Regions from separate parts of the Homo sapiens genome. Here all the other regions are linked to region 1. The links come from fine-mapping of genetic effects on plasma protein levels. A gene starts in region 1. Each other region holds a variant in brackets. All regions are shown on one strand. Distances are from middle to middle.

Region 1 (11,440 bases):
GCTAACATGGTGAAACCCCGTCTCTACTAAAAATACAAAAACATTAGCCGGGCGTGGTGGCACATGCCTGTAATCGCAGCTACTCGGGAGGCTGAGGTAGGAGAATCACTTGTGCCCGGGAGGCAGCCGTGTCAGTGAGCTGAGATCACACCACTGCACTCCAGCCTGGGTGACAGAGTGAGACTCCATCTCAAAAAAAAAAAAAAAAAAGAGCTTTGGTTTTCATTGTTCAACATCTGTGTGGTATATTTTTCTGTTTCTAAAATCCATTTGTTGTGCATATCTTAGATTTTTGCAGAAATGAAATTACAAGATCTGGCTTTCCTCTGGCATCTGAAACTGGGGGATTTGATATATACATTTTAGAAAATCATCAGTGAAGAACATATTTGCAAAAAGCTCCTATAGCCATGTTCTTTCATTTTAAGGTGAATGATTTGCAGTTGGAATAACTAACCACAAGGAGGTGTGCTTCTTTTGACCTAAATTTCCTTGAATAAACTAACAAGTACAATATATATGGTTTATTCTGGCTTTTGTTTTTATTTAAAATGACCAATGAATAAAATTACACAACATGGATGTAGCATTTTAAAATTACCTCCTTCAATTATAAAATTGACTTAATATTTTGTACACCTACAAGGTGCAAGGCACACTGCTGGGCTGTTTGTTAACGGCATACTATACTCTATGTCTTCACAAGTCATTTGCATAGAAAGGTGCTTGAAATTCTGTGTGATTTGTTAAAATCAGTAATTCCAGATGGGTTTACTTCAAACTAGTGATACAGTGATAGAGGCAGGAGGCAGAGAAATTTTAGGCAGAAAAGGGAGGGTCCCTGACAAAACCCCACCCTCAAGCCAAAAAGCCTGAAACCGCAGCCCAAAGTAGAGAACTTCTCTCCCTTTTGTCTGCTCAAATGTTGCTTTTTCCTAAATTACCCATGGCCCACCCTGCCCGCCATCCTGTGCTATAAAGACCACAGACTCAGCCAGCAGAGAGGAGAAGCAACTGGACGTGAGGGACTACGGCTGGATGTCAGAGAGAAGTGGCTTGATTTCAGAGGGACATTTTGATGGTGTAACTTTGGAGAAAAATCCAGCCAGAGATGGCAGGACTTCAGGGGAAGGTTACCTACCCAGCCCATCCCCTTTTCTGCTCTCCTTCCTGCTGAGAGCCACTTTCACTGGGAATAAAATACCCCGCATTTACCATCTGTGAATTCTTTTGTGTAACCTCATTTTCCCTGAATGCAGGACAAGAGCTCAGGAGTCATGAGTGCAGATACAGAAGGCTGTGACACTGGCCCTTTACTCTTGCCTAGGGCAGCTGCCTCACGCAAAAAGGCAAAGGGCCCACTGAGCTGTTTACACTTAAGCCACCTACGGATGGTAGAGCTAAAAGAGCACTGTAGCATGTCCTCTGGGGCTTTGGGAGTCACAGGCCGCCCCTCAGTCACTGCTGCAGGGCCCTGCACAGAGTTTGCTCCTGCTGGAGCCCAAAAGTGCTCACCCTGACTCCTGCATCCTCTCACCTGCATGCTCCCTCCCACGAGGGGTGGAACACAGTGTGTCCAAGTGATGGAGTTTGATCCCAGTAGCGCCGAAGTGGCCGGGTTGTTCCAGTGCTGGTGCTCTCCAGTCCTCACCCTCGTTCACTTGTGCGCTCCCTCCTGTGAGGAGTTGTGGGCAGCAGGCTGAGTAAACACCTCTGACGTGGGTCCCATGAAGGGGTCAGGGAAATATCCTGCTTCGGTCGTCCTTCAAAAAGTAACTACTGCATTATCTATTTTTTAATAAGAAATTTAAATATTAAAATATGTTAATGACATTAGTCCAATGTCTACGGATCTCACACCACATAGTCCAAACTTCCTCAGACAGAAATATTTTCACTGTTCAAAAATTCTGCCACACTGGGAAATAAAGGAGTAGACATGGGCTGACATTTGAAAATCTATTACCTGTATTTTTTTTGGTAATAGAATATGATTATAAATCTCAACTTTATTACTGACTTAAACAAGGTCACTAAAGCATTTCACGAAGAGTTCCTGATAATGGGTAACCAGATATCTAGGACTAGATACTATTTAGCAGCTGAAAATGATGGCAGAAAATATATGGGCAGCAATAGAAAAAGAATGTGACTAAACATTTTTAGCAATTTGATATAAAATATTTAGATTTTAAAAAATCTGTATAAATGGATGAATAGGTTGGATTTTACGGAAAAAAATAGGCTCAGTTCAATTAGAGACTGAACTGTAACATGATAAATCAGAATCAATGATGACAAGTTTTATATACTATTTTAATAGCACAGAAAACAAAACCAAAAAAACCTATTACCTATTGGCGAAACGACTGATGGAACATCTAATAACTTTTAAATCAAGTTAAGCCTAAAGCTGCCTCCTTACAAATTTTAAGTTTGGCCTAAAGGTTTCTCAACACACAGTGAATTGTAACCTAACTGCATGTGTAAACAGGCTGTAACCTACTCTTATACCAATCACTGTGTTGCAGCCCATCAAAGGCAGCCAACTGTTCGAACCTTGTTCAAGTAAGGTAAACACCAAGCTGTAACCAATCCAGCTGTTTCTGTACCTCATTTTCTTTTCCTGTAATTTATTTGCTTTTTTTGTCCATAATTCTTTGATCATGTGGCAGCACTGGAGTCTCTTTGAACCTGTTCTGGTTGGGAGAGGGGCACATTTCACAAATTGTTCTTTGCTCATTTTAATTTGTCCAAAGTTTTTCTTTTGACACAATGAACTCTGATTCTGCCAGGTGTTTCTGGGAAAATTGTTTTTCAGAAAAGGCAATGAACATTTTTGATAATTTGCTACTACACGTGTGTCTGGAATTGGTTCCTTCCGGTGGGTTCTTAGTCTGACTTCAAGAATGAAGCCTCAGACCTTCGTGGTGAGTGTTACAGCTCTTCAAGGTGGCATGGACCCAAAAAGTAAGCAACCCTAAGATTTATTGTGAAAAGTGAAATAACAAAGCTTCCACAGCATGGAAGGTGATCCGAGTGGGTTGCCACTGCTGGCTAGGGGCGCCAGCTGTTATTCCCTTATTTGTCCCTGCCCACGTCCTGCTGATTGGTCCATTTTACAGGGTACTGATTGGTCCATTTTACAGAGTGCTGATTGGTGCATTTACAATCCTTTAGCTAGACACAGAGCGCTGACTGGTGTGTTTTTACAGAGTGCTGATTGGTGCACTTATAATCCTTTAGCTAGACAGAAAAGTTCTCCAAGTCCCCACTCGACCCAGGAAGTCCAGCTGGCTTCACCTCTCACAAGCAACGTTATGTTTCTCATCTTCTAACAGAGCGTTCTGTGAAGGTCTGAGATGCTCCTACATTTCTAGTCTCATGGAATCTCGTCTTTTTTCAATCTGAAAACAAAATGGAAATGTTTTTGCCTCAACTTGTTTTTTTTCTTAACCAAATAGGATTCCTTATGGTAAAAATAACTGGGAAAATGGTGGCTCCAACTATGTTTTCACAAAAAATTGTAGCTTAAGTGAAATGCAAATGTTCATAAAGTCATTTTGCTATTACTAAAATAATTTATATACCATTGTGATGATTCACTGATTTAATTAATGAATTCATAAGAAAAGTAAAATCAAAGCCTATGGAATAAGCCTGGAATATTTTGGTATCAGTTTTGCTTGCATATCCACAAATTATAGATGGGGCTGTATTTTGTAAAAAAAAAAAGAACTGTGTCATATCTACAGCATAATGAATAAACGATGTGAACAGAAACTTCACAGAGAAGTATAAGTGCTCAATGAAAATATGAAAAGATTCACCTCATTAGGAATTAGAAAATAAAAAAATGAAAGCAAGGCAATATTATTGACCTATATTTACTTGAATTTATCAACAAAATAACTGGTGAAACTGATAGGATTATAAATCATCAGATTATTGTTTATTTGTAAAAGATAGTTGCTCCTAAAATATTTTCTAAAATAAAGAAGATTATGAAAAATATTAAGAAACCTGAATTGATATTTTGTAACTATATGTTCCCACTTTGGACAGTTTCCATTTTTTTTTAATATTCTGATGTCATTTACATTTTATTTTATAATCATATCCCATAATTGATATCTTAGTTTTACGTTTGAATGGGTTAAAATCTCAATGCCAGTTTTTTTAGTTTTTCATTTTTCCCATATTAATACCTTTATTGCTGAGTTATTTACTTTGATTACTCTTGATTGAGTGGACTTTTTGCCCAAGAAAGATTTTTAAGAAGGGTTCTTGGGTATTGTGTTTTTTGAGTTTTTGCTGATTTAGGAGAATCCTGCCCCACCAGTTTGGCTGTAATATTATGGGATCATGCTTTTGTTCTCAGCCTTTTTTACACACTGCACATTGCCATCAGATGCCACTGAGGAGTCTAAGGCCACTATTGTCATTCCCTTGTTTTTATGCCTGGGTGTGAATATAGTCTTTATCCTTTATGTTTAGCAACTTTACCAGGATACACATTGGTATTCATTGCTCCTTGTCAATTTTTCCTACCAAGGACTCTCCAGCCTCACTTCTCATCACCTCCTTTGCTGGAGGCACACCTGCCTTGCCAACTACTTGCCCTTCTGTGAACTTATTATGCTTCTTCATATCCCTGTGGCTTGTCAGAGGCAAGTGAAATTTCTTCGTGCTCTACTCCCACTCTTGTCATTTACTGCCACCATTCTAGCAGATTTACCTTCTCAGCATCTTCTCACTCCCCAGGTGACACAACCACTTTCCCCTTCCACCCTTGAAATGTAACACAGATCCTTAGTATTACAGGGAATTATCATTCATATTTAAAACTCTCCTACCCAGGACTGTGAGCTCCAAGGAAAGGGACGTGTAACTTACATCCACTTAACGACGCAAGCAATTTAAAGCCAAGAGTTCTTGTTGGCAAGAATTGGGAAAGTTGGACGGACAGTATACAATTACCGAGCAGCCAATAAACAGGAAAAGTCATACAGTTCGAATGTTCTGACCAGGCGGATATTCTGTCTTTAAGAAACACTAATCATATACCTGGGAAAGAAAAAAATCTTGGGCCCCTTCAAACTGGGAATTACTCAGGGCAAATCTGCCTCCTATTCTATCCAAGTCACCTCTTTTGCTGACAAAGAATAGATGCATATTCTGATTGCCTCCTTTAGAAAGACTTATCAGAAACTCAAAAGAATGCTACTGTCTATTACCTACCTGGAAGCCCCCAGTTGGGGGGGGCGGGGCTTGCTTTTAACGGTCTCCGCCTTTCTGGAAGGAACTAATGTACTTTTTACATATTGATTGATGTCTCCTGTCTCCCCAAAATGTATAAAACCAAGCTGTGCCCTGACCACCTTGGGCACATGTCCTCAGGACTTCCTGAGGCTGTGTCACGGGCATGTCCTCAACGTTGGCAAAATAAACTTTCTAAGTTAACTGAGACCTGTCTCAAATTTTCGAGGTTCACATACCGTAGGTAAAAGTGTCAGAAGCCTAAAGGTGAGCCAGTGGAAAAGCCTGAAGACCCCTGCAAGGTTATTAGCTAAGCCTCCATAACGCAGGCGGCAAGTGTCCAGGAGTCTGGCGTCTGCTCGCCTGCACCACGACCTCCCTCCTGGGGAGAAGGACATGCATGGTAAGCCATTTCTCCATTTCCATACTGATTGCTTCCTCTCACCACCACGGCCCATCTGCGAAGCAAAACTAATCCTGGCGTGGAACAGGCCGCCTGAGGGAAACAGCTAGAGCCCGGCGCGGGGCGGAGCTGGTTGTGCGCATGCTCCGTGCAGGCGCAGGCGGGGGCTGAGCGCCGTCGGGTTACGCCTGCGCTCCGGGTGAGCCCGCGCCTGCGCCTTTGCGGCCGTGATTCGGTCCCGCTGTCCTAGGCGGGATGGTGCCGCTGTGCCAGGTAAGGGTGGCGGGTGTGCGTGCGGGCCTGGGTGCGGAGCCCTCCTCGACGTGTCTCTCCCGCCCTTTCCCTCCACATACCCAGCCTTGGTCAGTCGGACCTCCCCACTAGCCCCCAACCTGGCCGGCGTCTTGGGTTCGGGGGCGCCCCCGCCCCCGCCCCCGGGCCCTTCCTGTCTCCGGGCTTTACTGCGACTGCCCCAGCAGAAGTCGGGTCCTCTCCGAGAACTCTTGTCAGCTCACGGCAGCAAGGACGGACTCGTTCTGAAGGCGCCTCCACCTTTTATGACCACCTCTTTCCCAGATTATTCGTTTTGATGAAGCTAAAATTTTAATCTAAAAAGAAATGCACCTCATGGAGAATTCTTGTGAAGAACTGTGCTTCATCTGTGGATTTCTACACCCTTGATCATTTGCAAACCTGTAATTATTTCGTAAAGAGTTGTTTGCACGGAGTGACAGGTGCCTATTTTACTTCGTCGGATCCCTTACATACCAGGCTGCTGGCACAAGTTTGTTCTAGCAAATTCCAGTCTGTCGTGTGTTTCAAACCTACTTGCTTCTGTAAATGTCAGATTTACTATGTTGCATAACTTAATCCTTAGCGTCTGGGGACGATGTTATACAGACCGGAATCTAAGGTCATTTGACAACCGTGAGAAACAGGTTTTTCGCTTATTTATTCATTTATTTTATTTGTGTAACTCATCTCTTGACTCAAACATTTGTTCTTTGCTTACATATTTATAAAAGGTGCTATACTTTTATGTCAATTAAGGCAGGCTTAACATGTTTTCCTAGAAGATAAATACTTAGGATTTTAATGATGGCACACTTAAGTTTGTAAAACTAAAAGGCATCCAGAAATTAGTCTGAATTGTATTTAAAACAACAAGTTTTCAGAATTTGAACTTGTAGGTATACTGAAATTTTTTACGGGTTATTTAATTTTCTTTATAAAATTTGTCTTTGATTAAAGCAATACATTTGGAAAATGAGAAAACTGCTCAACATTGACAGTCAGAAAACGAGTATGAGTTGTTATTAAAAGCATTTTCTTTACTTTCAGGTTGAAGTATTGTATTTTGCAAAAAGTGCTGAAATAACAGGAGTTCGTTCAGAGACCATTTCTGTGCCTCAAGAAATAAAAGCGTTGCAGCTGTGGAAGGAGATAGAAACTCGACATCCTGGGTAGTTAAAAATTTGTAGAATGCATATGAGTAACACTTAGATATTTTCAAAATACATAAATGATAAAAGTAAAAAGGTTAATTTCGATTTCCGTGCTTAATGTCAAAAAGAATCGTTAGTTGTATTTTTTTTGGAACACCTGAAAAACTCTAAATGTGCACCGTATTTTAAGAAAGGTTAAAGATATTTTACCCCAAAACACAGTGAACCGCAGAGGGACATGATTATATTCTCTTTGATAATTTACAAAACACTGCACATGTCACTTCTGCAATTTTATAACATTAAATGAAATTGTTACAAATTCTGTTAAAAATGTGTGCTTTAAACATTTTGTTCTGCCCCTCTCTTTAGAGAGCTCAACATAGAAATTTCTAAGATTGAAAGAAAAATGAGTTACAACAAATCCTAGATGCTGCTGAATTTGAGTTTTTGTAATATTTAATTTTTTTTCTGGTTCTTGAAAAACCTATAATTTTACTTATGTCATTCCCACTTCAAGTTCTTTTTGGAACAAAATATAAAAGTGACTTATTTGAGGGTGATTCAGGAATATTAATGGTGTTACTTAGCTTGTATAGGTGTTTAACCTGGAAGTCCTAGTTCTGTGTAAAAGATACTCCATAATAAGTGTTTAAAAGCAAACCACTTCATGATTTCGTATCTTTTAAGTTGCTCTTACAGTGGCCTGATAATCAATAAAACACAGTGGGGTCTCCCATTCTGCTTTACCTGGAGGGAGACAGCAGGTCTTGTATACGTTTTCACTGTGCCTGAAAAGAAAGCTTACCATTGTTCAGGTATAAAGGAACAGCTAATAAAGCTGTGTTGCAGGTGGCTTTATGACCTATGCTATCTTTTTCATCTTTCTAAGCAACTTAATCCATATTCGAGTAGGATAATGTGTACAGGCATAGTTTGTGGGCAGTTATACTTGTGCTTGAACACATGGATAGAAGGACCCTGGAAAGGCCATGTACTGATTGGAAACTTTTCTTTTGACCTGGTTTGAGTGTTGCCTCCAGTCTGGTGGGTTTTTTGTGCATTTTTTTGTTGTTTAATTCCCCAAGGCATACAACATCCAATAAAGAGTTGACAGCAGTTTAACGTATCTTTGTGGTGTATAAGTATGTTCTTCAGTGGATATGTCCTTTCTCCATATACTATGTGTAAATTTAATTGGTAATTTTGCAGGTGATGCTTTATATAATTATATCTATGTAATATCTCTAATTGCAGCTGAAGCGATTTGAGGTCTATCATAGCGTTGATACTTTGAGTCATATTTTTTCCCCTTTAGATTGGCTGATGTTAGAAATCAGATAATATTTGCTGTTCGTCAAGAATATGTCGAGCTTGGAGATCAGCTCCTCGTGCTTCAGCCTGGAGACGAAATTGCCGTTATCCCCCCCATTAGTGGAGGATAGTGCTTTTGAGCCATCTAGGTATGTGAGATTTGTTTTTCTTAATCAGTCGTGTGGGGAAGGATCATACAGATGATAAAGTGTATGTGGTTTGCTGTTAATGTATATTCTTTGTAAGTCTGTCTGTACCAAATCTTTATTGATGCAGCAACTCTTCATTGGTGCCAACAGATTTATGAATATCTAGCACCATTTCTGCATCAAGTCTATTGTAAGCAGTTTAATTACAATAAACATATCAGTTTGATATGTTTCATTTAACATGGTTTATTGAGATCTTATGTGTCAGGCACAGTGACATATTAATATCCATATTTTGCAGGTAAAAAAACAAATTCAGAAGACTTAAAAAACTTGCCTTTGATCACATAGCTAATCACATAGCTAATAAGTGAAAGAGCCAAATTAAAAAGAATTTATTTAACTTTTAAGTTCAGGGGAACTTGTATCATGGCGGTTTCTTGTACAGATAATTTTGTCACCCAGGTATTAAGTCTAGTGCCCATCAGTTATTTTTTCAATCTTCTCCCTCCTCCCACCCTCCACCCTCAAGTAGGCTCCAGTGTCTATGGTTTCCTTCTTTGTGTCCATGTGTACTCAATATTTATCTCCCACTTGTAAGTGAGAACGTTTGGTATTTGGTTTTCTGTTCCCGCATTAGTTGGCTAAGGATAATGGCCTCTAGCTCCATCCATGTCCCTGCAAAGGACTTGATCTCGTTCTTTCTTATGGCTGCATAGTATTCCATGGTGTATATGTACCACATTTTCTTTATCCAGTCTACCACTGATGGGCATTTAGGTTGATTCCATGTCTTTGCTATTGTGAATAGTGCTGCAGTGAACAGACGTGTGCATGTGTCTTTATGACAGAACGATTATATTTCTCTGGGTATATATTCAGTAATGGGATTGCTGGGTTGAGTGGTATTTCAGTCTCTAGGCCACCCTGTCTTCCACAATGATTGAACTAATTTACACTCCCTGCAGCAGTGTATAAGCATTCCTTTTTCTTCACGTCCTCGCCAGCATCTGTTATTTTAATAATAGCTCTTCTGACTGGTGTGAGATGGTATCTCATTGTGGTTGGGATTTGCATTTCTCTAATAATCAGTGATGTTGAGCTTTCTTTTCATATGATTGTTGGCCACATGTATGTCTTCTTTTGAAAAGTTCCTGTTCATGTCCTTTGCCTACTTTTATTGGGGTTGTTTTTTCTCATAAATTTTAAAAAATTCCTTAGAGATGCTGATGTTAGACATTTGTCAGATGCATAGTTTGCAAAATTTTTCTCCCATTCGGTAGGTTGTCTATTCACTCTGTTGATAGTTTCCTTTGCTATGCAAAAACTCTTTAGTTTAATTAGATCCCATTTGTCAATTTTTGCTTTTGCTGCAATTGCTTTTTGAGTCTTCTTTGTCATTAAATCTTTGCTTGTTCTTATGTCCAGAATGGTGTTGCCTAGATTGTCTTCCAGGGTTTTTCTAGTTTTTGGTTTTACATTTAAGTCTTTAATCCATTTTGAGTTAATATTTGTATATGGTATAAGGAAAGGGCCCAGTTTCAGTCTTCTGCACATGGCTAGCCAGTTATCCCAGCACCATGTATTGAATAGGGTATCCTTTCCCCATTGCTTGTTTTTGTAGGTTTGTTGAAGATCAGATAGTTGTAGGTGTGAAGCTTTATTTCTGGGTTCTGGGTTCTGTTTCATTTGTCTATGTGTCCTGTTTTGTACCAGTCCCATGCTGTTTTGGTTACTGTAGCCCTGTGGTATAGTTTGAAGTTGGGTAGTGTAATGCCTCCAGCTTTGTTCTTTTTGCTGAGGATTCAAGAGGTTTTCAAAAGACAGCATTTGAACTCATATTATTGGACTGTCTGTGTACTTTTTTCCAACCACACTTACTAATACTAGATAATAGCTCTCCCGGCCATGGAAAATGTAGAAAAATTTCACAGCTAATAATGCCTGAAAAGAGAGCTAATCATTGCCCAGGACTAAAGGAATAGCTTTATTGTTATGGCTGTGTTGCAGGTGGCTCTTTGACCCATGCTACCTTGTCATCTTTCTAAACAACTTAGTCCATATTCAAGTAGGATAATGTACAAGAACATTGTTCAGTATAGTGTGGAGAGATCAGGCTTCTTATAAGTACAGACAGAATGAGGCTTAATTTATTGTCAGCTGAGGAACAAACAGTAGAAATTAACAGTCATCCCTGAATAAAAACTCTTGGTAAGTTAGGAATGAAAGAAGACTTTCTTAATTTGATAGGATTTTTATTCAAAATCAGGAGTAAATATCATATTTAATGGCAAAAACTTGGTTCCATTAAAGAAAGGAGCAAGCCAAGGATGCCTTTTTATCTTTTTTCACCCATTTTTTCCCCACCCTCCTGGAGGGCAGTGCCACAAGAAATGAAGAATCAATCTGTAAAACAGATTGCCTCTCATGTCAACACTAGGCTTCTTTCTCAGGCCTACTATCTGGAAATAATAGAAGAATCTCTTGTCAGATATGTATCTCAATGCTATTTAGAAACTGTGGTCACCATATCACCACCATGATTTCAGGAGGTTCTAAAAATGCAGTTTTTTGGAATTTCGAATTTATTCAGAAAACTATAGGCTACCATTAAAGGGATATTTGTGGTAATTACAGCTGTTCTTTGAAAAGGTTACGAAGATTACTCAAAAGCATTGTGTGTTACTTGAATGTGTTTCGCAGGACTGGTATTATGCATTTTTAAAACCTGCCAGCTAGGTTTTAGTAGTCTCGTAAAATCAGAAGTTGTGGGAACTCAGTATGGTTTGAAACTCGTAGACCATATTTATATTACCTATATTTTATTGCAAGAAAAAGAGGTGGAAGACACTTAGGCGGCTTGTGTAGCA
Region 2 (11,440 bases), 87 kb after region 1:
CCCAGCTCACGATTTACATCCTCCAAGATGCCTGCTGAGAAATGCTGCCCTCTCAGGGGATGATTTCATTTTGTTTCCTCATCAAATAGACAGGCATGCCCCAACATGTGATCCTGAACCTTTCTTTGAATTCAATTGTTTAGAGTATCAAATGGAAGTTCACACAGAAAAAAAGGCTTATGAATTACAGTTACGGTTTTTTCCTCTTTTTTTTTTGAGACAGGATCTTACTCAGTCACTCAGGCTGGAGTGCAGCGGTGCCAACATAGGTCACTGCAGCCTCAAACTCCTGGGCTCAAGCCAACCTCCCAGCTCGGCTTCCTGAGTAGCTGGGACTGCAGGCATGCACCTCCATATCCAGCTGATTTTCAGGTTTTTAATAGAGATGAGGTCTCACTGTGTTGCCCAGGTGGTCTCTAACTCTTAGGCTCAAGTGATCCTCCCACCTCAGCCTCCCAAAGTGCTGGGATTACAAGCGTGAGCCACTGCACTTGGCCATACATTACGGTTCTTATTTGATAAGCCAACAACAGCCCATTTAATCACTGAAAAGAGCTCTAGAGAGTGGAGATTCAGAATCTGAAGTTCCAGGGTGAGTGGGGATGGTTGGAGCCTCCTGCTGCAACAAGGAGATAAGGTCCCCATGGCAGGACCTGTGTCCACCAGTGGGCATGAACTCTGGCAGAATAGGAGCTACAGCGCTTCTTCCCAAATACAACTTTCAAATTACCTCATTTCTCTGGGTTCACTTGCATTAGTATTATGGGAACTAGATTTCCATCTCCATTGAGGTGGTTGTTTTTCACCTGGGTAGAAAAGCCATGGTTTGAAAATGTAACCATCACATAGCATGTAAAAACTGGGAGCACTTTGGGGCAAAAACAAAAGGTGTTAATATGCTAGAGAAAGCCACCTTTGTACATTTTGCATTGATATTTGTGAGGACCCTTCACCACAAGGAGGGCAAAAGCCTAACTTAGAATGAAGCAAGTAGACAAAACCTTGCTAAAGAAAAAAATGTAGGAAACAATTCTACCATTTAGAAATGGTCCAGAGATAGCATTAATAACTAGGTAATGATTTACAAAGTTCAATGAATATCAGTTTACATGATCAGAAATGAAGACAAATCTATCATTCTATCAATCTACCTACCTATGTATTAATGGTCAAAACTGGTATTATAAATTTGCTTTTGAATATTTAGAGAAAACTTTCTATCCAGGTTTTTAAAAATGAACCATTATACCATCCCATTAATGATCAGTCTGCAGTTGTCAACTCTCAAAGAAAGATTGTTCATTTAAGGATATTTGAGGGCCACCCATTTATAGTACAGTCAGGCACCAATTTGAAAAAGCAATTGAAGTCAAATATGAAATTTATTTTGTATTTTTACTGAAATCATAAAGAAGAGAATATTCTTACCAGTTGCCTTTTGGATTTATAAACTGCTGCACTGCATAGCCAAACTGTTCACTTGAAGGACCGGAAAATATTTTTGCTTCTGGGAGACCAACATTGTAGGCCAAACAACAATTTAAAATGCCTATTAAGAAAAATATGAAATAGCACATATTTACAATTCATGAATATAAGTGTGTCGTATAATTCTCAAAGGCCATTTTTAAGAAAACTTGCTTGACCTAATAATTATTACTTATCAACGTTTACCCAGAAAAAATAACTACTGCTTTTTAAGTACTTATTTGGAGGCCCGGCACCAAGCTAAATACTATATATGCATAATTCATTATCTTACTAATCTTCATGGAAATGCTAGAAGATAGTTACTAATATTATCTTTGTTTTGCAGAGAATTTTGAGGTTCCAGGGGACAAGTATATCTCACAGCTGGAAAGAGGAAAGGATGAAGACAAAATTTGAACACAAGACTTAAAACAACTAAATTATCTCTAAGTATTCTTAAGTAATTTGAGTTATATTTGTCCTTCCCAAAACAACAAGACTCTAAGCCACCCAAGGGCAAGGGCTGAAGGGTATCATCTATTTATTCTGAATCACCTTGAACATCTTGACATGGACTCTATATGAAACATCTGTCGAAAAGGCATTGATGACTACATCAAAGGAGATAGAAAATCACAGCTCCTTGAAAATTGTTATCATTTTCTTTCAGAAGTGATCATTATCATTTTTGAGGATGAAAATGTAGGGATTGGTGTCATATCTTTTTTATTCCAGTGGGAACTGTCAAAAGTGTTTTGTTTTTGATGCTTCTTTCTGAATGATTGAGAAATGCTAATCATTTCAAAAAACAGAACAAAGACCAAGGCATATAAAGCCTTGATAGATTTTATTTTATTTTTTTTGAAAATTCTTATTTCTGATGGAAAGGGAATGAAGGAAAGGAATAAGGCAAATCATGTTTCTCTGTATGACACTGACAGCATTAATGCTGCCAGTTCTTCATCCTACAGAAAGAAGGTTGTGTGGATATTAATGCTCTCTCTGGAGATGGGAATATGCCTCATGTTGCTTAAGATCAATATTTACCTTCGCAGACACTGAAGACAGAATGGACTCTTTAAAATTGACATCAAAGTTCCATTAACATGTGCTTTCACAAAGAAATGTCCTACTTTCTAGGCAGCATTGCAAGTGCATGGTATTTCATATGTCTATTGTTTTAGGCACTGAAAGGCCGGAAGAAAAAGGCTTGCTCTTCCATTGCGCCTCTGCATTTCAGGGAGCAGATTCTGTAGAGTGCTCCAAAATGATAATGAAGTCAATGATGAAGCAACGGGGACTTTAAGTAGTTAACGTCCCTCTGTAAGTGCCAAAATCACTGTATCAGGGATTTGTCCACACAAGGAATTCAGCTTTTTATTTCTTACAAATAATGTGCTGCCATGAAGAGAAACACAAATACTCATTCTGAAATACTCTATAGCAAAATCTGCAAAGCTTAACATCTGCAAATTTTCTCCTTAACATCTATTTTTCATATGCTCCATTGCTCCTTTTTATTTTTGAATAATAAAAAAATGCAAAAGAAAATAACAGCAAATTAAGCAGAGATCCAGAATTGGCATGCAAAATACCTGGTGTTTTCAACCAACATTTATCTTCACCCCATTGTGGAGAGCTCAATAAATGCTATTTGAATATGTTATCAATCATCTAACATATTAGCGTGGAGAGATGATGCCAAACTGCTTTCACCTTTAAAATACCTAATTCTGGAAAGGACACGTGACTGTACATAAAACAACCTCATTTTCCCCCATTAATTAGACCTGGGCAGATCATTTAATGGCAGGAAATTATGATGGAGTTCATTTTATCATTTAGCAGTTCAATTATACAGCAATTCACATATATAGGCATATATGTGTTACTATATATGCATAGATATATATTATTAACTTATGTCTTGCCATTGAACTGAGAATAAAATCCAATGTCCTCACTGTAAATTCAAAGGTCCTTCATGATTGAGCCCTGGTGTATCTTTCTGACTTCACTTCCGACCACTCTCGTCCTCCCTCCCTGTGTTCCAGCCACACTCACTTTCCTTCTGTTTTTTGAACACATGCAGCTCATTCTGCTTATGCGCTTTGCAGCTGCCTGTTCCACTGCCTATAACATCCTCACCTAATACGGCATGTAGGACTTTGCTCAAATAGGTCTCTGCTCTCCCTTGGCCCTCTGTGTAGCAGCAGCACCCTTCTTCATCACTGTATCACTACTAGAGCAATTATCCAAAATTATCTTATATAGCCATATTCTTTTGTCTGTGCCTACTAAAATGTAAGCTCCTTGAGAAGTCAAACCTTGTTTCTTTTATTCACTCTTACTTTCTCAGCACCTAGGATTTTTTTTTAATAAAATGCATTTTAATTACTATATGTTCTTCAATAATGATTTGGAATATAGAGAAAACTCAAGGGAAAAATCATTCATAATCTTTTCTTTCTACTGTAAGTTCAGTTAATTCAGATGTATTTCCTTCCAGTATTTTTCCTCTATTTAAATTATAATGTTTATTCCAACTCGCATCTTACTGTTTCTTAATGCTTATGTCTGCCTATGTCAGAATCATCCTGACTCATTTGAGTGCCACAACAATCCTGTGGAACAGCAAAACCAAGCTATTATTAACAAATTACAAATAAGGAAACTGAAACTCATGAAGGCTAAATGTCTTTCTTGCGCAATGTCACCCACTCTGAGTCTAGGTTTGGCTCATCTCTCAACTTTATTGTCCAGAATTTCTATTCATAAATGATCTGCTCATTTTTCCTCACAAAGCATGACCTTCTTTATCACCATCCCTTCATTCCATTGATACTAAATCTCTTTTCAGCTACTTAAATCTTTCCCTTTATATCCTGCCTCTTTTGATAAATCTGGACAATCTCAATTCTCTATACTTTTTCTCTTAATATGTATTTACAATTCAGATCTCTGTCATCATTTCACACTTGGCATATGATATCTAAATAGCTCATAAAAAATTAATGGAAGTATTCTGTCTAATTCAACATGTATTTCTTCTTTGCAATCCCAGTGCCTATATCTTCTGATGTCTGTCCTCATAGTTCAACTGAATCATATGGATAATAAGAACCATATTTGGTTCATCTTGTTTCCTTCCTCCAAACCATGCCCATGTGTCTATACATACTTAAAAAATGGATCATTCAACATATGTTTATACAGCTCCTTTGTACCAGGCGTTTTTTAAGGTCCTGAGGATACTGCAAATAAATAAAACTAAAATCTCCCTGTTCTCTTTGCATTTCCATTATGGTAATTTTACTAAAAAAAATGGCATCAAAATGTATAAGTGTTAAAATAAAGAGTGGTAAAAAGAACCTTGAGCTCAGTATTGAGAAGAGGGTAAATCTAAGTTCAAAGGTTTCACAGAGGAGATGGCAATTAATCTGGATCTTGGAGGACAAGTTGGAATTCACTACATAAAGAGGAAGGCAAAGTTCATCCCAGGCACCGGGAACATCATGTTAAACGTAGGCATAGGGTGTGAAAGAGAAGAGTACGGCAATGGTGAAAAGTCTGGCACAGA[G/A]AGTCATAGGTTGCTTCATTAATCTATACATTTCCAGTTCTCTATTAGATGCAGTGAGTCTTCAACTGACTTGGGCTTTGCCAGGAGCCTATTATCACCCAGAGTATAAATCTTCCTTCTTTGTCCTCATGTGAATGCCTGGAAAGGCAATAATAGCATCGCAAACTCAACATATTTAACAAAGGTGACCTTGTCAGACACGTGTTGACAGTAACCAGGCCAAAGTATTCCAGTAAATCTCACGAAAGCTTACACCAAATACATTTTATCTCATGCAGGGCTAACTAGTTTCCTCTATTTTCACAATAAAAAGGGGATACTGTTTCATCCTAGATTATAACAGGCTGGTTGCCATTTTAATATCCATAAGTAAACCAGATAGTCAAGCATAAGTTAACTCATGTAGATTTCTTATTTTTCTTAGAGTCTGAGGCAGGAGGATAGCTTGAATCCAGGAGTGCAAGACCGTCCTTGGCAGCACAATGAGACCTCATCTCTACAAAAAATAGACAATTAGGTGGGCATGGTGGTGCATGCCTGTAGTTCCAGCTACTTGGGAGGCTGAGATGAGAGTATTGCTTGAGTTCAGGAGGTCCAGGCTGCAGTGAGCCATGATGGCACCACTGCACTGCAGACTGGGTGACAGAGACTCTGTCTCTAAATCAAACAAACAAAAATTTACAGGATCTCCTTTCCTGAGGATTCCTGACCATCTCTGAAATAATTTTTTTGGAAACAATAATTTAAGAATTAATTTTAGTAAATATGAAATTTATTCTCCTACTTTCTTCTGGAGCATAATTTTAAGTTATAATTCAAAAGAGAAACATATGATTGGGGATTTGATATAGTTAACCTACTTTTGTTCTAAAAATGTAGCAAAGCCTGAGCATGGCAGCTCACACGTGTAATCTCAATGGCCGTCTAAGACAGGAGGATCATTTGAGCCCAGGAGTTCAAGGCTGCAGTGAACTGTGATTGTGCCACTGTACTTCAGCCTGGGCAACAAAGTAAGACCCTGTCCCCCAAAAAAAAAAATGCAGTGAAACTCAGAAAGGAAAAAGTCTTTTAACAACAAGAGCGTAAATAATGTATAAAACAAAACATGTCATTTTATATTCAACCACAAAAATTTGGCAAGGGAAGTTTATTGATGTCTATGATATCAGTGTCAGAACTAAAGGATGCATTTTGTAGTAAAGGGTGGCAAAATAAAAGGGTCTAACTTTTGTGGTCAATGCAAATTTGAGCATATCTATATATACTGAAGGGCCAGGGGCAGGGATGGGTTTTTCATAGAAGGGACTCATTTGCAAAACGTGCCCAGGGACATACATAGGAAGAAATTCAGGTTAAGAGAAGAGAGCAAAGGCCAAAAGCAAGAGGTGGACTTGGGAATAGAGGTGTGGTTTTGACACAGCCTCTCAGATTGCAATTTGGCCCATTCCTGAAGATGCATACTGCACTTCTAGGGGGAACAATGTCTCCATTAAATATTGAACAAAAACATAAGAACTGTAAGGCCTATCTCTAACTGTGAGCACAGAGTGTCATTACTTTAAGAAGGTGGAGCACATTTCTCCCATGCCTGAGGGACTGGTCCTCAGTAGCTGCAGAAGGATTGACAGGGAAGAGGGCAGAGGATAGTGAGCAACTAGAGCATGCCGAGGGCAGGGGCCGTGGTGCAATAGTGATCAGGACACAGGGGACACAATTAGGGGCAGCAAAGGTTTCCAGGAGAACCATGCTCTAGAGTCTGGGAGAATGTTATCTACTCCGGAAGAATGAGAAAACAGTGTTTAGGCACTTAGGCTCTCTGTGTGTGTAAGTAGGTGGCTGGGCCACAGAAATTCTATTTTGCTAATAAAAATTTTGTATTTTATGTCATCTCTCAGTCTTAGGTGGCCTAAGAAAACACACTTTATACATATTAAATAGCTTTAATAATTTCTAGCAATCTAAAAAAATTAGTTCTTAATAACCACCATTAAAATTATCTGAATGTCCAAGATTAGGGGCGTGAATATGCAAATGGTAGCATATAAACTAGACAGAGTTTTATCCTGCCATTAAAAAAACAGCAATTGTGAAGAAGATGACAGTGCTTAACGAAAATAAAATAACAAAAATAATATTCAGAATAGAAGAAAAAGGTAAAATATATGTGAATAGTAACACAACAAACAGTACAATTGTGAGTGTAATGTAGCTGCTTTTAAATTTTCCTTTAGTGTATAAGAATCAAGATAAAAAGGCCGGCACGGTGGCTCATGCCTATAATCCCACCACTTTGGGAGGCCAAGGTGGGTGGATCACCTGAGGTCAGAAGTTTGAGACCAGCCTGGCCAACATAGTGAAACCCCGTCTCTACTAAAAATACAAAAAAAAAAAAAAAAAATTAGCCGGACATGGTGGCACATACCTGTAGTCCCAGCTACTCGGGAGGCTGAGGCAGGTTAATCACTTGAGCCCGGAAGGCGGAGGTTGCAGTGAGCCAAGATCGAGCCACTGCACTCCAGCCTGGGTGACAGAGTGAAACTCCACCTCACCAAAAAAAAAATAATAATAATAATAAAATAAAATAAAAATAAGAATCAGGATAAAATAATGAAGAAAGAAAATTGCTTCTCCTACCCTGGACTAGAAGGACTATAAGCATGAGCTATTTTATTTCAACATCATTTGCAGTGTGTAATCTTATTGTCACATGCACAAATATATAATTTACAATATATAAAGGAAACTCTGGCCCATTGGGTTGCATTTGACTCTTACTTTCATTTGCTAGGCATGTCCTAAGAATGGGATCCCTACATTTATGCCTATAGACTTAAAAGTGCAATGGTTATAAATGTCTTTCATCTCAGTAACTCAAATGGTCACATAATAACACTTCAATTCCATGGAACTCTATGTTTGTAATAAGTCTTGTATAAACTTGTTCATATCTGTATGATAACTTGTGATATTTTCTCCATGATTCTATGTTTTTTCTCTCTCTATTCAAAACTGTCCATAATACAAAACTAATGAATTTATACACACAGTTAATAAACAGATTTTATTTTCCTATTTATTTTTTGTTCACTCAATAAACTTATTGAGTATTTATGATGTGGTAAACATTGTTCTTAGTGCAGGAATGAGAATTACATTAATTCTCTCTTATCCTCAGGGAATGTGTTCTAAGATCCTCCCATCCCTCCAGTAGATGCCTAAAACAATAGGTAATACCAAACCCTATATGGTATATACTGTTTTTTCTATATATACATACCTATAATAACATCTAACTTATAAAATTAGACACAACAAGAGATTAAAAACAACAACTAATAATAAAACAGAACAATTATAATAATATGCCAGCATTACTACTCTTGCACTTTGGGGCCATTATGAAGTAAAATAAGGATGACTTGGCCAGGCATGGTGGCTCACGCCTGTAATCCCAGTACTTTGGGAGGCCGAGGTGGACAGATCACCTGAGGTAAGGAGTTCAAGACCAGCCTGGCCAAGATGGGGAAACCACATCTCTACTAAAAATACAAAAAATAGCTGGGCATGGTGGCACATGCCTGTACTCCCAGCTACATGGCAGGGTGAGGCAGGAGAATTGCTTGAACCCAGGAGGTGGAAGTTGGAGTGAGCCGAGATCATGCCACTGCACTGCAGCCTGGACCACAGAGCAAGATTCCATCTCTAAATAAATAAATAAGGGTGACTCAGACACAAGCCCTGCAATACCATGACTGTTGATCTGATAACCAAGATGGCTCCTACATGACTAATGGGCAGGGGCCTCAGACAGCCTGCTGGACAAAGGGACGATTCACATCCTGGGCAGGATGGAGTGAGATTTTGTCACACTACTCGGAACGATACACAATTTTAAACTTATGACTTATTTACTTTTGAAATTTTCCATTTAATATTTTTAGGTCACAGGTGACCGTGGGTAACTAATTTATATATTTTGCTCAAGATAAAAAATTAATGAGTTTGCTTATTTATATGAATTACTTCTTTTATCCTTTGTGGTTCAATAAATCATTGAATCATTTTTAAATAATTCAACTTATTTTAAAATTATTTTTTTAAAGTACCCTTTATTTTCATTTAAAAAACAAAATGTTTTATTTATTTATTTGACGTTTATTTATTTATTTATTTATTTATTTTGAGACTGGAGTCTCGCTCTGTTACCCAGGCTGGAGAGCAATGGCACGATCTCCGCTCACTGCAACCTCCGCCTCCCGGGTTCAAGCAATTCTCATATCTCAGCCTCCTGAGTAGCTGGGATTACAGGCGTGTACCACCACGCCCTGCTAATTTTTGTATTTTTAGTAGAGATAGGGTTTCATCATATTGGTCAAGCTGGTCTCGAATTCCTGACCTCAGGAGACCCACGTGCCTCGGCCTCCCAAAGTGCTGGAATTTACAGGCGTGAGCCACCGTGCCCAGCCTAAAAAACAAAATGTTTTAAAGAGTATTTCACTAATTTTAGACATGACCTCTTCAAGAATAAATGTAATTTCTACAAATATTTTATATGCTTTCTATAATCCTCTTTGTGTTACTCAAAAACTATACCAAGACGGGAGCCAAGATGGCTGACTAGAGGCAGCCCGAAGAAACCTCTCCGACCGAGAAACCAGGACATTGGGAAGGCTGGCACACACTCTGAACAGGTCTTTGCAGGGAAGGCATTGAGAGTGGATGAGGGAGGACACGGATGCTGGGCTGAAGGGGGAGAAAGCTAGGAGCCCTACACGAGGCTGCCCAGCACCAGGAATCCTTCCTGGTCCCCAGCAACTTCTGGGGTCAGTTGAACAGGTGAGGAGTGGCCTGCTCCTGCCATGGACCTCCAGCATCCTAGCAGCGGAACTCACGACCCCCACGGACACCTGAGCTGACACAAAGACAGCTGCTTAGAGAGGTGGCAAAGGCAGACTCCAGCCAGTGGGGAGCCCAGAGGATTTAACAACAGCAGAATATGGCCAAGAACGCCCATCCCTCAAGGCCTGCCGTGCTCCTATAGGAGACTTTAGCCTTAGGGTGACTGTTGGACCCGGACAGAGCAGGGCAGTCTTGCCCGTGGGATGGGGCCAGTCCTATCTGAGCATCTCCTGTCTGCTGGCCTTTCCTGGAGCTCCAGCCTGACCATGGCCTCTTGCAGAGCAGCTTCAGATGCCCAACCAGAGTGCTTCCTAGGGCACCTCATCAGAGCTCCTGCACTGACAGACCATGCCTGGCCATCAGAGGGCTCCAGCAGAACAGCCCCTACCGATGCATAATGGTTTACCTGCAGCCTCCCCCAGCCACAGCCTCCCCAACCGCAGCCTCTCCCCAGCATTTTGCCAGCATGCGCTTACCCATGCCTCACACCCCTCCACATCCCCCCAACACTGCTTTGCTGGCCCACACATGCCAGAAGACCTTGTCTCTCCTCCCCTGCCAGTGCATGCTCATCCTACCATACCCCCAGCTGATGTGTGGGCAGCCTGCTATGCTGGCATGAATGCACACAGGAATACTGGCAACCTCATCCCCACTGGTGCCCTGCCCCTGCTGTACTGCTACCATGCACCGCCAGCAGGTTGCTGCCACCCTGCTCCTTCTGGAGCCCCACCCCAGCTGACACATGGGCACACGGCCATGCTGCCACAGCTGCTGTCACATAAAAGTGACGATGGATCCTGCTGCCACCACCCCAACAAAGAGCTTTGGCTGGCATTCCCCCATCGGAGTGTTGTGGACAATATAGAGCATGAACACTTTGGCCCCTCCAGTGCAGCAGATGCCTAACCTTGAAAGACCAGAGAACAAAGCGGGGGGGCCCAATGCCAGTTCCTCAGAGTTAGAGTATGAAGCCTAGGAGTGCAGGGCTGAGCCTTTGCTCCCTATAATCTTACAGAGACAATGCCAGTTCACTAAACACCACAATCACATCCTCCAAGTGCATCAAAGAAGATAAAAGCAAAAAACAACCCATCCAAAAAGTAGCAATTTCAAAGACTGAAGGAATATCAGCCCACACGGATGACAAAGAAACAGCCCATGAACTCTGACAACTCATAAAGCCAGAATGTCTCCTTACTTCCAAACAACAGCACTAGTTCCCCAGCAATGGTTCTTACCCAGGCTGAAGTGGCTGAAATGACAGAACTAGAATTCACAATATGAATAGAAATGAAGATCATCAAGGTTCAGGAGAAAAAGTCAAAACCCAATCCAAGGAATCTCAGGAATACAACAAAATAATACAGGAGCTGAAAGACAAAATGACTATTTCAAGAAAGAAATATTCATCTGATACAGCTGAAATACTCACTTCAAGAATTTCATAATACAATCACAAGTATTAACAGCAGAATAGACCAAGCTGAT
Region 3 (8,059 bases), 54 kb after region 1:
ATTGAAATAAGTTGTTTAGATTTATTAAAAATGATGAAATATATATGAACATATATTGACATATTGTAGAATTGTCTTAATATATTTGTGCTAGAGAACAAGCCTTCCCATTGGCTGTGTTATTTTGGACTTTATTTAGTATGATATGTTATACAGACAAACCTTTGTAATAACCTGTAGTACAGGACAGGTACAGAGCCATCTTCAAATTTCCCTTTCAAAGGCATATATTTGCCAATGGTAAACCCTTATGAACTTTACAAAGGAGTCAGAAGTGAGTCTCTCACTCCACATATTTATAAGGAAAGCTCACAGCCGGATATGAGACATGCTTGAGAAACAGAAGTACTGACACGGGAGAGACGGAGATACTTCTGCTATCCCAGACACGGCTCGGGAGGCCCTCTTCTGACCTGTTCTACTTTCAGCTTTCTTCCTCTCTCTTCCTGACCCCTTCTCAAATGTTCCAGTATATTCCTATATTCCATCTATTTGATAATAGCACAGCTACAAGAGGCAACTTTAGCTGTGACATTCAATCTATTGGAAGGAAAATAACCATTTGTCAGCCCTGTGGGGAGGGCAAAGGAAGATGCCTACTCTGGATTGACTTGAAACCCAATCTAAACACTCAATGCTATAAATCATCAAACGAGGCAGATTTGGTGAGGATGAGATACACTATTTTTAATTTTTTGTTCTTCTATCTTAGAGCGTACCAAAGATAAGATGTTGGACTAAAAAATACAAGCCATGAAAAATAGCAAGTAAGGAAAAGATGTGTTCTACTTTGAGGATAAGAGACCATGAAGTTATGTGAATGACTGTAGTAAATTGAGGGACTCTGGATTTGGGGTGCATGAAAGGACTTCAGCGTATGTACAAAAACCTCATGGGATTGTGTGCAAAATTCTCCGTGCATAGATTCATTTACATTTTTTCTGAGGGAAAGATCCATAACTTCTATGAGCATCTCTAAGGATTGATGATCCAGAAAAAGTCAGTTCCTTTGATTCTAGATAGAAAACAAGCTGTTCTTGGTCCTCTGACCTGCCGATCAAATCCTGGGATTTCCTACTGTTCCTTAAATAATTCCCAGGATCTCTTTCTTTTTTTTTTCGCCTCCTTTCACTATCTCTCTCACCTCCTGACTCAAATTAGAATCAGGGGCCCAGGAGGTGGATGTTTCTGAGAGATAGAAATAGACTTCCCCGAGCTGAAAAGACAGTGTTGTATTCCAATTCCACCTCACGTTTTTCCTACCTCCTTATTTTTTCAACTCTTTTCTGTCTGCTCTTAGAAAAAGATACTATGACCATTCAGAATTCGACCATGACGGTGATGACAAGAGTACGTGTTTTTAACAAACATTTCCAGTAGTTAATTGATTCAAAGAAAATTCCTGCAGGAATAATACCTTAAGTTAATATACAGTCTGTGCCCTGGGGTACTCAAAGACTTTCTGGTATACTATCAGTTTTCCCCCATATAAGATCCCTGTGAAACAGGGAAGGGAAGACATTATTATCCTTCAAATTTTAGAGGTAAATCAGCAGCACAAAGAAACTAAATGACCGTGACTAGGAATCAGAAGGGCTGATCCCTAGATGGCTGTCTTCCCATTTTATGTATAAGGCTACTGTGTCTGGAAGTGTTATGCCAAATGACAACATGGCTTGAAGCTATCTGATATACGCACATTTTGAGAAGAGTAATCTGCACTGAATCCCACTTGTGACATTTCCATCTGAAAGTTGTCTCCTCCTTGAACAGTACCTGGAACATTCAATTTTAAAAATTGTATTACTGTCAGTAATTTTAAATCAAGTTTTCAAACACAAGCAGGCACGTATGTACACACATGCCTACAAACACAAACACAAACACACACTGTTCCAATACTCACCCAAAAATACAGAGCTTGCATATTCTGGGAAGAAGAAATTACTAAGAAAGTGTTCTAGCAGGTTATGGAAATAACAACACTTCCAAGGTAGTGTTCAAAGTTGGCATTAACTTTAATTGAACATTAATGTATTTAGCAGAATATGTATGACGTTCTTGATACCAAAGGACACTCAACAAAGGGTATAAGGTAAGGTGAAAACTGAGATGATAATTTTTTAAAAACTTGATCATTACTAGCTAAGAAACTAACTGAATTTTTAGCTTTGAAATATGGGTACTGATAATGTACACATATCTCAGATGCAGTTGGAAGGGCTGGGCAATTGATCTGTAGTGAAGACTGCTGGGAGATAACTGAGTTAGCTATTAGGAATCAGAATTCAAGACTGAGTAGGAATTTTACCAATTGGGAAGTTTGTTCTGGTTCTGTATATGTGCTTGCCTGTGTCACTAACACTGTAAGATGCAATTGGTACTTATTTTCCATACAGTGTGATCAAAATGGCTACGTTTCACTAATCTTCACAAAAGGAAGCTAAATTACTGGACTCACACTTTAATATAGAAAAGAAGACAAACTGTACTGTACAACATAGTCTTATTTAGAAGATAAAATAATTTACACAGGATGAGTAGAGATACTTTTTAATAAAATAGAATAATGTTCCCCAAAGTCCATAATAGCAAATAATGCTCAAAATCATTTCTAGCTAGCTTGTAGATTGCAATTGTTCTCATTCATTCCACTACAAACAAATACAATTATCAGTGTGGATAGCCTAGTGATTTTGTGTTATCTCAGGGTATGCTGGATTTAAATGGTTATTTAAACAACTTTGAAGCACCATGGGATACTGAAGAAGCAATAATGCTTTTTGGGTAATTCCAATGGATAATCAAATCAAGATTTGAGTATATGAATGAATAATTTATGCAATTCCTTTAGCCCCAGACTCTAAGGCTGTACCTGATACATAGGTTTCCAATAACATATGGTCTTTATTGCAAAGAGTTATTCGGGTTAACCATCAAGAACTAGGATTTGGGTGATGTGTGTTTTTTTTTTCTTTTAACCAACTGTGAAGTGTGTGCTAGTCCCCCACACAGTGAGCTCCTGAACACGTGATCTTTCTGCACTAACTAGATTTTCCAAGGCCACCTAAGTAAATTATTTTAGGTCCTATAAATAAAATGCTTCCTCAAAAACTGAACTATTAAAAATCTTTGCTGTATTTTTCTAATTTTAAAAATATATATGCTTACTGTAAACAAATTCAAGAATTTTAGAACTTACATAACACAGTGTAAAAAGGTAAAACTATTTATGATTCTAATAGATAGATATTCATACATTGTCCCCCAAAAGTCATAACAATTTATCATCCTATCAACAGTGTATGAGCTTCTTTGCTTCCTGATAATCTCTCCAGGATTAAACATTATTATTCTGTGTCATCTTTTAGGCAAAACATATTGTCGGTTTAATTTATGTTTTTAAATACTTACTGAAAGTATTTAGAAATATACTTTGTAAATTGGGAATATTTTCTTATGTTTATCAGTCATTTGTATTTTATCATTTATAAACTATTTATTCATGTTTTTCATCCATTTCTCTTACTGATTGTAGTAGCTCTTTTTATACATGGTATACAAGTTAACATTAGTAAAGCAAATATGTGATAATAAACAATTATTTAAACATTTTGAAGAAAATTCTTGAAAGGAGGTTATTTTTTTTACCTTCAATGCTGAAAATTTGTTCTCCTAATGTCCCAGCCTTTTCTAGTAGAGCTGCTTCATCAGACACATTGAAAAAGTATCTTTCTGTTGGAATACTAGCGATTGCTTTTATTTCTTTTATTAAATTTTTAGTATCAAGGGCGTTTCTGTTTAAGTACCCAAGAACCTTGAAAATAGAGGAAGAGAATGTGCAGTCATTACTGCTGTACATTTTCCCTATGAGTACATTCTAGCCTATTTTGAACACAATATTCCCTCTGGAAAAGTAAATCAAGCAACATTTCCATAACCCTTTATTTAGTAGACAGGATTGAAAATCATCAAGAAGCAGAGATAGAGTAAGAACTTTCTTTTATATTCAACTATGAACAGCCAATGGGAAAGTGCAGCCTTGAGAAGTGATGCTATAAAGAAAGATTTACCCAATAGCGGCAAGACAAGTGAAAAGAAAAGCCACTTACTGCTATGCCAAACCTCAGTATATTGTCATGGTTGCATTGATCAATCACAGCTTTCAACATTGAACCATCATGTGATTCACCGTCAGTTACAACTACCATTACTTTCGTAGCACTTCGTCGCCCACCAGAAGCTGCTGAATAAGCATATTTTCTGTGGCAGATAAAATTAAATAAAGACTTGCTATCAAAATATGAAGTTAATATGAGAACCTCTGGTTTAAAATAGAAACATGAAACTAGCTTCTTTAAACACAATCTATTGTAACTCCATATTAATTCTGAGGACATATTTAATGTTCCATTTGTAGCTTGTAGAGAAACATATACAAATGGAAGTCTTGCTTGACATTAAAAACAATGTCTTGTGTGTCAGGGCATATGTGTGTATATGTGTGCATGTATTTATCCCAGTATTCCTTAGAATTCTTTTCTTCTAAGAAAGTTGAATTAATCAGTATGAATTAATAAAGCAAAGATATTTCTGTTATAAATTTTATGCATTAGTCTTGTGTTTACTTTATCAATACTTATTTTTTTAAAAGTAATAGATATCCACAGTTAAAAAAAAATCAAAGTATTTGGAAAGGTATAAACCAAATGTGACACTAAACCCCTCTCCACAGGTAAGCACCATTATCAGTTTCTTGCATTTCCTTCTAGAAAATGTTTTATTTAGATGTAATATAGGTACAGGCATAGTCTACCCCTTAAACTTTTACTCAAATGAGGGCATATTCTTTTTTAAAAAATGTTTTATTTCCATAGGTTTTTGGGGAACAGGTGGTATTTGGTCATATAAATAAGTTCTTTAGTGGTGGTTTGTGAGATTTGCACCCATCACCTGAGCAGAATACACTGAATCCAATTTGTAGTCTTTTATCCCTCACCCGCTTCCCACCATTTCCCCCCTGAGTCCCCAGAGTCCACTGTATCATTCTTATGCCTTTGCATCAAATGAGGGCATATTCTAAACAGTTGTTTTTTACTTTGATGGAGACCTTTCCATATCAGCACATGTATATACATGAAGGTCTCATTCTTTTTTTAAATGTCTGCATAATATTTTATTTGGAGGACCATATGAAGGAAGACTGGTTTATTTAACCGGTTCCCCATTATTGGATGCTTAGGACATTTTGAGTTTTACAAGTAAGGCTGTAATAAATATCCCTGTGTATATATCTTGGCATACTTTTTCAAATGGGATAAAATCTTAGCAGTAAAATTATTGGGACACAGGATACACACAATTCAAATTTTAATAGATAGTATCAAATAAAGAAAAAAATCAGAGCATTCTATGTCTTGAATACTTTAAGAAGGCAGTCGGGAAAGTTAAATCTTTGATTTTAGGATGTTTATAAGATATTACATGATGTTTAAATGAATTTATATGAAGTAAATGAAATGAGAAGACCTTAGATTAAAACAGTAGGAAATGGGGCAATCTGTCATAATTTGTTAATATTCATCAGAGATTCAGACAAATTGAGCTCATGGATAACTTGGTGCAAATTAACAAAGGCCACAGAATCTTAAACATATGAGTTTCAGTTTATTATAAAACTGAGCATATCATTTTATTTCCTAAAATCTTTTTTGTATTCTATAATGTAGACTATAGAAACATAGAAAATATTCTGCATTTTTCGGCCAAATTTGAATTACACTATCCACATCAGATCCTTTCTGAGTGTCACATTCTCTTTATGATACACTGTAAATTTCATGTATGATTCTAAGGTTTTTGAGGACAGAAACTGTGTCTCATTTAGTTTTAATTACCCGCAGTGCTTAAAACAATAAACTGCAACTGTAGGCATTGAATGAAATGAGGTGAATGAAAACATGGCAACAATTACTGAAATAATTTCAGATTATCTTCAATGTTTTAAAGAAAGAGATGAGAGACAGACAGAGAGAGAGAGACAGGCAATTACATTCTAGGAGGGATGAGTAAAATGTTGGGTGATTCTCCTAGCACTGGGCAGACTAAAACCTGTTAGCTTGGGAAATAGTGGGAAGAGGGAGATAGACAATGGCCCAAGGGAGAAAACCAAAGTTTTGAAACATGATGAAAGCCAGGCAAGTCCTTCCTCAATGGACAGTGGCCATTGTCCTGGAGAACAAAGCTCGCCAGGGCCCCAGGCTCCTTCCAGGGAAAAATGCTACTCCCACCTTCCCTGCTGAAAACCGGGCCGTTGCAGTTTCTAACTCCAGGAAAGCCATTTTTCATCTCAACTTCTTTGTCCTTTTAGTCCAGTTTGCTGTGTCCAGAAAGGGCGCTTCACCTAATGGCAGCTGACCTATTGACTGGCCAGCAGCTTATGAGATGGCCTGGCCCAAAAAACCTTTATTGTCCCTGAATAGAGACAGTAATGATGAACCAAACCAATCATATCTTCTCTTGTGGGGAATCTGCTTTTGAGACATTTGGGATTGTCACCAGTTGACGGAAGTAGCAACTGAAATACACACACAGAAAAAGAAGACAGATAAAATGGGAAATGCAGAAATAGAAATGACAGGATGTGGCCACTGACCAGATGTGTGACATAAGGAAGAGTGGAAAGAATAAAGGAAACCAAATTTTTAGTTCGACTGACTAGGCAAGAGACAGTGGCATGAATCAAAATGGCAAGTTCATGAGGAGTGGTAGGGAAAAGAATAAGGCCAGTGTGGGACAGATTGAATTTGGTAAGTGAGCCAACACTCCAAATAAAAATATTCATCATCAGCTAGATGCCAGTGTGAGTTTTGGGAGAGAGTGTAGGGCTGACAACATAGCAATGAGATAACCCAACAGTGCTGCTGCTGATGCCATGACAGTGGATAGAATCCCTACAGGAGAAGAGCAGTAAAGAAGAGAGGGCTCTGTTTAGTGAAGAAAAAATAGGAAAAGGAGCTAGTGAAGAGGCAAAAGAATTTGGCAGGAGTTCGAGAAGTTTGTGGTGTCATGGCAACTTGGTTAGGAATAGCAGCGTATGTTCATCATTATCAAATGTTCAGAGGAGCCAGAAAGGATGAGGTTTAAGGTGGGACCACAGGGTTGGGGGATGAAGAGGGTCATGCTTATCTAGTGGCAGAACTGTAAGTTTCAAGGAAGTAGAGGGAGGGAATAGAGTTGCTTTTTTCAAAAAGAATTATGGTGGTAAAAAGAAGGAATGCACAAGACAAAGAGAGAGAATAGGTTTAAGGGAAGGCAAGCTTGTTGTTCTCATTAATTTGTTTAACAA[C/T]CGGAGTGTGTTTAGCATTTTTGTGAAGGTATCTGGTTTGCAGGGACATGGATGGAGCTGGAAACCATCATTCTCAGCAAACTTACATAGGAACAGAAAACCAAACACTGCATGTTCTCACTCATAAGTGGGAGCTGAACAATGAGAGCACATTGAACAATGAGGACACAGGGAGGGGAACATCACACACTGGGGCCTGTCAAGGGGTGGGGGACTAGGAGAGGGATAGCATTAGGAGAAGTACCTAATGTAGATATGGGTTGATGGGTGCAGCAAATCACCATGGCATGTGTATACTATGTAATGAACCTGCACGTTCTGCACATGTATCCCAGAACTTAAAGTATAATAAAAATAAAATAAAAAATAGAGTGAAAAGAAAGGTCAGTGGATCTGAGAAAATAGAGAAATTGAGATAAGAATCAAGAGAGTCCTGTATAGTTATAATTTCACATTTCCCACTGATTGTAATAAGCATAATAAACTTAAACTCGTATGTTTAAGATTCTGTGGTCTTTGTTAATTTGCACCAAGTGATCCATGAGCTCAATTTGTCTGAATCTCTGATGAATATTAACAAATTATGACAGATTGCCCCATTTCCTACTGTTTTAATCTAAGGTCTTCTCATTTCATTTACTTCACATAAATTCATTTAAATATCATGTGATATCTTATAAATATCCTAAAATCAAAGATTTAACTTTCCCA

Alleles and levels. Alleles are on the strand shown, and positions count from the first base shown. The strength of an association depends on the size of the effect and on how common the allele is.
With allele G in place of A in region 2, the plasma level of the protein whose gene starts at base 5,890 in region 1 is higher (moderate association).
In carriers of allele C in region 3, the plasma level of the protein whose gene starts at base 5,890 in region 1 tends to be higher than with T alone (moderate association).

The links. A credible set is the group of variants that fine-mapping cannot tell apart. PIP is the posterior inclusion probability: the model's chance that the variant is causal. The UK Biobank Pharma Proteomics Project read protein levels with antibody pairs (Olink). The fine-mapping took linkage between variants from a reference panel, not from the people measured, so its PIPs are less certain.
Region 2: its variant is the best candidate, but not a certain one, in a credible set for the plasma level of the MOCS2 protein (UK Biobank, PIP 0.56).
Region 3: its variant is the best candidate, but not a certain one, in a credible set for the plasma level of the MOCS2 protein (UK Biobank, PIP 0.58).

Annotation. Positions count from the first base shown.
Region 1 is chr5:53,104,207-53,115,646 of GRCh38, reverse strand. MOCS2 (molybdenum cofactor synthesis 2) reads left to right here and starts at 5,890. Exons shown (of 7, transcript NM_004531.5): 1 at 5,890-6,396; 2 at 7,004-7,125; 3 at 8,426-8,570. The coding sequence starts at 8,473. It overlaps MOCS2-DT (MOCS2 divergent transcript), which reads right to left and starts at 5,805. Exons shown (of 2, transcript NR_104654.1): 1 at 5,499-5,805; 2 at 521-1,788. RefSeq lists an enhancer at 1,005-1,504 and a silencer at 5,862-6,151.
Region 2 is chr5:53,016,857-53,028,296 of GRCh38, reverse strand. It overlaps ITGA2 (integrin subunit alpha 2), which reads right to left. Exons shown (of 30, transcript NM_002203.4): 2 at 1,429-1,549. LOC124900974 (a long non-coding RNA gene) reads left to right here. Exons shown (of 2, transcript XR_007058767.1): 2 at 1,817-4,750. Among named protein-coding and RNA genes, the nearest start is that of ITGA2-AS1, 32 kb to the right of the region's middle. The variant G/A (reference allele first, on the strand shown) is at 5,051.
Region 3 is chr5:53,051,742-53,059,800 of GRCh38, reverse strand. ITGA2 (integrin subunit alpha 2) reads right to left here. Exons shown (of 30, transcript NM_002203.4): 8 at 4,113-4,263; 9 at 3,652-3,817; 10 at 1,700-1,776. Among named protein-coding and RNA genes, the nearest start is that of MOCS2, 54 kb to the left of the region's middle. The variant C/T (reference allele first, on the strand shown) is at 7,349.